Homo sapiens: one gene and its partner. The protein of the gene in region 2 purifies or fractionates together with the protein of the main gene of each other region. This does not show direct contact. Each region holds a gene or a part of one and is shown on either strand. Other genes may lie near its edges.

Region 1 (3,267 bases), on a different chromosome or scaffold from region 2:
AAATTTGGGTCTGTGAGAAGCAGACAATCACCAAGTGGCCTGGAGACATCCTGGCTTACAAGGAGCACCTCAAGTCCAAGCTGGTGGATGAGGAGCCCCAGCTCACCAAGAGGACCCACAACGTGTGAGCCCTCTACCTGGGTTCGGGTCAGGAGCTCCATCTGGGAACTAACAGCTGCTAACCTGACCAGCCGCTCAGGACAGGACCCTGGGGCTACACTCCTGCATTGCTGCAATACTGCTCCCCCAGCCTCTCCCCTGCCCCTCAACCTGCCTTAGCTGCACTCTCTTACCTACAGCTGGACAGTACCTGTCTGTTTCCTGTCCTCCTTCCAGTTACATCTGTCCATGTCTGGACTCGGCTGGCCGTTCCCTCCAGCCCCTTGCTGGTTATCTTACTCTGAGTGTGATGCAGTCAGAGGCACCTGCGGGTTAGCCCAGGGGCCCAAGCCCTGGATTTGGCCTGCGGAGGAGCTTAGGATCCTCGTTTTCTGGGTTTTGGTGATGTTGGAGGAGTACCCCCCAGCCCACCGCCCCGATTCCTTTTTGCTTCTGGTTTGGAGCTCCGGACCAGGACCTTCGTCCTGGTCAGTTTTTAAATAATTATTTAGCAGTGTAACTTTTAGACCTGCGTGACATCTACAAAGCGCCCAATAAAGAAAGAGGAAGCCACGGTCCCTACCTTCCTTCTCGGGTCTCTGGGGCCTTCTCCTCCCTGCAGTGCCAACATGCACTGCCCACAGCAGGAGCTGGATCCAGCGTCAGTGTGTCGATGGGAACTGAAGACTAGTCCATAGGAGCTGGAAGAACTTTGTCCCTTTACTTCTGATTTGAAATTGTACCTTTTCTCAGGCCTGTGATTCACAGACTTTAACATGAATCAGAATCACCTGGAGGGCTCATGCAATCAGATTGCCAGATCTCGCCTCAGCGTTTCTGGTTCAATAGGTTTTGGGGGAGACCAAGAACGTTAACATTTCTAGCAAGTTTCCAGGTGATGCTGTTGTTGCTGGTCTAGAGACTATTTTGAGAACCACTGTCCAGGAGCGTGGTTTTCTGATTGTGATCTGAGGTTCTGCCCCAACTGCACAGCAGTTGGGCTGCTTGTTAAAAATGCAGGCCAGGTGCGGTGGCTCACACCTGTAATCCCAGCGCTTTGGGAGGCTGAGGCAGGTGGATCACTTGAGCTCAGGAGTTCAAGACCAGCTTGGGAAACATGGCAAAACCCGTCTTTATGTGCCTGGAATCCCACCTGCTCAGGTGGCTAGGGTGGATGGATCGCTTGAGCCCAGGAGGTGGAGGTTGCAGTGAGCTGAGATTGCACCACTGCATTCCAGCCTGGATGACAGAGCAAAACCCTGTCTCAAAAAAATGCAGACTGGCCAGGCACAGTGGCTCACACCTGTAATCCGACTGTAAGCTCATCACCTTGGGAGGCCACTGTAGGAGGATCAATTGAGCCTAGAAGTTCAAGACCAGCCTGGGCAAAGTAGGGAGACCCCTTCTCTACAAATAGTAATAAAATGAACCGGGCATAGTAGCATGTGCCTGCGGTCCCAGCTGCTCTGATAAGAGGAGGCTCACTTGAGCCCAGGAGGTTGAGGCTGCAGTGAGCAGAGCGTGCCGCTACACTCCAGCCTGATGACAGACCGAGACACTGTCTCAAAAAAATAAAAAAATTCAGATTGCTGAGCATCAGACCTATTGATTAATCGCATTTGGTAGAATGAGAGAGGTGCAGAGATGGCCAGGAGTTTGCATTTTCACACCAACGTCTGTGAACCTCTCTTCCTATTGGGATACAGGAAATTTTGTATTTTTACCTGTCCACAGCCATAGTTATCATCACTGTTGAATTCACTTCCAGCCCAGGGCTCTGCATACCTTATCTGGGTCTTTTGAACTTCAATAGCATTTCACCAGTGGCCATCCTTCCTGGTGTGGATTCATCACTCTGCCTCTGAAATCAGCCATCCCTATGGGAAGACACAGCCATGATTTTTCAGTACTCATAATACAGCCAGGACTGGCGGGAGCAACTGTCCCAGATGGTGCTTAAACCCCTTAGGAGCTCATGATCTTCTTGGAAAGCCAGTAAGACAGAACCATACAGGACACAAATTAGATGCTAAATTGTGATTTAGATAGGAGACAGAAGTATTCAAAAAGGAGGGAAATTTCTTGTGAGTAGCTGCCCAGAAAGGTGGAATTGGTGTGCTCTCACTTGAAAAATGAGTAGGATCTTCTCAGATGGCCACAAAGTCCAGGAGCTGCCCTGGGCAACAGGGACAGGAGCCTCCCGTGAGACACTGCAGCTGAGACAGATGGGAGTCCTCTGACCCCAGAGGGTACTGGCTTGACTGCTTTATGCCTTAAGTGGGGCCTGGAGCAAAATGGCCCAGGTTAGTCTGTCCTGAGAGTCCAGAGCCTTGGTTCAGGGGAGAATGGCATCTGGAGAGTGGGCTGCTGGGATAATGGGGACAGTGAGGGACAGAGCCCTTGATACTTAAGGAAGTGCTGGATATTGCTAAGAATTCAGGTAGTCTCGGGATCTCCAGAGTCTCCATACTAGGACAGGAGATCTTCAGAACCTGGAGGAATGGAAATAGTCTAGTCAGCTTATTTGTCAAGAAAAATGTCAACCTTGGTAATTTAAATAATGCTTTAAAAGTCCACAAAATACATATTTCTAAAATTAGCAGTGCCTTGTTTTGGATTGAGAAGTGGCCTGTTAATTCTCTTAAACCTTAGCCCGTAGGATGTGGCCAGCCGTTCAGAGCTGGGTGGAGAGGTAAGTTGATTGAGGGGTTGCTAGCTTTAACACAGCCAGCAGGTGATGCTGGTCTTTGGAACCCTTCTCCCACCTCTCAATTTGTAACATCCTCTTTTCCCCCAAGCCCCTATACCTTTCATATTGCTCCAGGTTTCTTTAATCACAGCATTCAAGGGCCTGAAGTATTTGTTCCCCCATAGGTGCTAAGTGAGACAATTGACTTTCTCCATTTTGCAATGGGCTTTTCTTCCCTTTACTGCTAACTCCCAAGACCGCCACGTCTGCTTTTCTGGTGAGCACCTATTGCTTTTCTGCTTCTCACCTCCTCCAGTGGTCTTCCTCCCTGTCAGCCTCTTCACCACCTGGGGAGCTTCTGCTATCTGCATCTAGTCCAGGCTCAGGCGTTTTGCTCATCTGCCTTCAGTCCAAGCCTCATTATACTCCGCTCACACTGATTCCACTCTACCTTTCACACCGTTTCTTTCTCTCATTCT
Region 2 (3,656 bases):
AATAATTTTTTATATCCAAATAGTTTTCCTCTCCTGGGGATCCAGTAAGCATGGCTAAAAGACAGTCCCCAATCAGACCCAATGCTTTGGGTGGACAGCCTCAAAGAGCTTAATGAAGACAGGAGGGGATTTTCTAGGGCAATGAGTGGGGTCTCTGGTTCTGGTTATCTGTTGTTAAAATACTTTGGGAGCCTTGCCTCCATTTTGGGTAATTGAATCTGTTCTGGAAACCCGGCAGAGAACTGAAGCCCTTATCCTAATATTATAGAGGTTTTCATGCATCATGGGATCGGACCACCTGATCTTCACACTCCCTTCAAACGTTGGGATTCTCTGAACCTCCCTGTCCTTCCTGCCTGGAAAACTCCAGCACTGAAGGGTCATCAGTTTTTCTTTGTCCAAGAGTGGTGTGCTTTCTGGCAGATGAGAGAACAACAGAGTGAGAGGTTGGAGAAGAGTGAACCTTAGAAATAGTTCCCAGACAATGTAGAAGGCGGGTCTTGGTTTAAAACTGCACCCCTTAGTGCACATCACTGGGTATCCTAGTTCTCCAGCAGCCCCAGAGCAGGTCCTCCTGATTCCAGTCATGCTACTGTCACTTTTCTGGGTATCCTCCATTTCCTGAGGGTCTTCATGCTGTCACCAGCATGTAAAACCCCTTTGCTATGTCGCAAGGGACTTGGTGGTGTCTGTTTGGGCCTGTGCACCGCCCACCAGTTTGTAAGCATTAGTATGTAGACTGTCTCTATCAGGGATCTGCAAAATACAGCTTGTGGACCAAATCTAGCTCACTGCTTGTTTAATAAAGTTTTATTGACACATAGCCATACTCATTCATTTACACGTTGTCTATGGCTACTTTTATGCTATAATGACAGGGTTAAGACTTTGCCAAAGAGAATATATGGCCTCCCAGCAGAAAATATTTACTATCTGGCTCTTTACAGAAAAAGTTTGCTGACCCCGATCTATATATATCTTTGTATATGTATATATATATTTAAAAAGACCAAATGAAAGCTATTGACTATAGTTGAGAAACAAAATTATGAAATTCATAGATAATTGTCTTTCTATAGTCAGGGCTACCTATTTGTTTTAAATATCATACACTTCATAAAGCCTCCCATGCTCACAAGCAAATAGAAGAATGAAGTAAATTTCCCAAGCTTTTTACACATGGAACTCAGGTACTTTCCTTAACTGAAATCTCTGCTTAGAGATGCTGGTTTGATTTGTCCCAGCAATCCCATTACTAGGTATATACTGAAAGGATTATAAATCATTCTATTGTAAAGACACAAGCACACATATGTTTATCACAGCACTGTATACAATAGCAAAGTCTTGATAGACTGGATGAAGAAAATGTGGCACATATACACCATGGAATACTATGCAGCCATAAAAAGAATGAGTTCATATCCTTTGCAGGGACATGGATGAAGCTGGAAGCCATCATTCTCAGCAAACTAACACAGGAACAGAAAATCAAACACCACATGTTCTCACTTATAAGTGGGAGTTGAACAGTGAGAACACGTGGACACAGGGAGGGGAACATCACACACTGGGCCCTGTTGGGGGATGGGAGGCAAGAGGAGGGAGAGCACTAGGATAACTACCTAATGCACGTGGGGCTTAAAACCTAGATGACGGGTTGATAGGTGCAGCAAACCACCATGGCACATATATACCTATATAACAAACCTGCATGTTCTGCACATGTATCCCAGAACTTAAAATTAAAAAAATTAAATTTTAAAGAGATGCTGGTTTGACCTAAACTAAGAAATGCTTATCCTCCATAATAAAGTCATATATAGGATTCTAATTTATTAATTCCTCCCTGCTATGGAATATCGCCTTGCCCCTTACAAAGACCACTGAATGGTTAAGACTCCTTATTTAGATAATTCCCTGCCCCAATCGTCCCTGTTTTGACTTTAAAATCCCATCAGTGTGAAATTCCTCTCTTTGTGGTCATTAGTCTCTAGCTCAGCCACTAGAGAGCCTTCCCTTCCTAGCCTGTGTCCCCTGACTTACCCCCCTACTCTGTGTCTGCCTAGGAACCACTCAACAAGTTTAATTTTATAGCATCTATTATTTAGTTTAAGATGCCAAGAAGATCACCTGTTAATTACCTTTCCAAAAGACTACTGTTTTTGTTTTAAGTCAACAACATTTAAGACACACACCTTATTGCTAACTCCGGAAATTTTACTGTAATACCAACATCCCTTAATGTCGCACAATAGATAGTTATGGAGATTCTGGCAGAGAATGAAAATCAGCTTCAGGGAAAGAAAGTTACAGGTGTGCTTGGTTCTACACAGGTGCAAGGAGAGGCAAAGAAGGTGAGTGCTGCAACTGATTGAACCAGAGCAGAGAACACAGGGAGAGGACATCAGGTCAGGCAAAGAGCGTTTCTTCCCCGAACATGGCTATTCACCGCTGGGGGCCTTCTCTTCTTCACCGCTTTTCACTGTCAGGTAGTAGATGCGGTTGGCCTCGGGGTAGGTGACTTTGCTGAGTGGGAGTCTGAAGATGGCTGGGTTGTTTGTCGTCAGGAGCAGGAAGATGATGGTGGCAAGGCAGAAGGCCCAGGTGCCTGGTGGCACGCCCACCTGGAAACAAAAGCATTGGGGACTGAAGAAGTTTCCTAGTTTCCTGTGTTGGGCTGGGGACTCTGGGGGAGAAGGATGTGACAGGCGTTGAGGATGGAGATCCTCCCTCCAGTGAAGGCATTGATATTCCTGGATTTGCAATGTCACAGTAGTTGGTCAAAGAATTTAGGGCTGGATGCAGTGGCTCATGCCTGTAATACCAGCACTTTGGGAGGCCAAGGTGGGAGGATCACTTGAGCCCAGACCAGCCTTGGCAACAAAGTGAGACCCAAAAAAATACAAAAGACAGCTGGGCATGATGGTGCATGCCTCTAGTCCCAGCTACTTGGGAGGCTGAACTGGGAGGATGGCTTGAGTCCTGGGAGGTTGGAGCTGCAGTGAGCCAAGATTGCACTACTGCATTCCAGCCTGGGCAACAGTGCGAGACCCTGTCTTGCAAAGAAAACAAAAACAAAACAGATAATTTGAGCCACAATCAGAATCTTTCAATGATGGAGCTGAAAATTGGCCTGAGGATGTTCCCCCATGTCCAGTCACACAGCTCCATCTGTCCGTCGTGTTTTCCACTGCTAGTTACATTGCAATCTTTCAACACACACACACACCCCTCCCTCTCCTAGAGGTACATGTATGCAATTGTCAATCCTCCTCCGGACAACCTTAGATAAACCTTAACAGAGATGTCGTGTGAGCACCAGCTACCATTACCCGCTCAATGTTCCTTTCCCAGACCCCACAACCCCATATGTCCAGAAGCTCTGGGAAGAGCACTTTGGGGTAGTGTTCAGGAGAATCCACACTTACCACTGACATGATGTTGGAGATGGCTGCTTCCATGTATGCACAGAACAGGGCTGTGGAGGAACAAGGATCACCAGAGTGAGCTTCCCAGGGCCTTCCCCCTAAGCCACTGCCATTGCAGACCAGGGAGCCCAGACCAAGAACAGGAGCCCCACCCTCTCTCCTGCAGCCTCAGATTCTGCACCATGCCCTGACAGCTGGCATGCTTGCCTGGCATTTGTTATCTCT

Evidence for each region. Proteins that work in one complex are often made in the same cells at the same time.
Region 1: the proteins of SLC14A2 (region 2) and ABCF2 purify together in Homo sapiens (affinity purification with mass spectrometry, with the first as the bait; one large-scale study listed by BioGRID). This does not show direct contact.

The regions. Positions count from the first base shown.
Region 1 is NC_000007.14:151,210,915-151,214,181, reverse strand, and holds the end of ABCF2 (ATP-binding cassette sub-family F member 2), read left to right. Parts: coding exon 1-128; 3' UTR 129-2,698; downstream 2,699-3,267. Other genes in the region: ABCF2-H2BK1 (ABCF2-H2B protein), read left to right, coding at 1-124.
Region 2 is NC_000018.10:45,642,957-45,646,612, reverse strand, and holds part of SLC14A2 (urea transporter 2), read right to left. Parts: intron 3,482-3,656; coding exon 3,432-3,481; intron 2,628-3,431; coding exon 2,453-2,627; intron 1-2,452.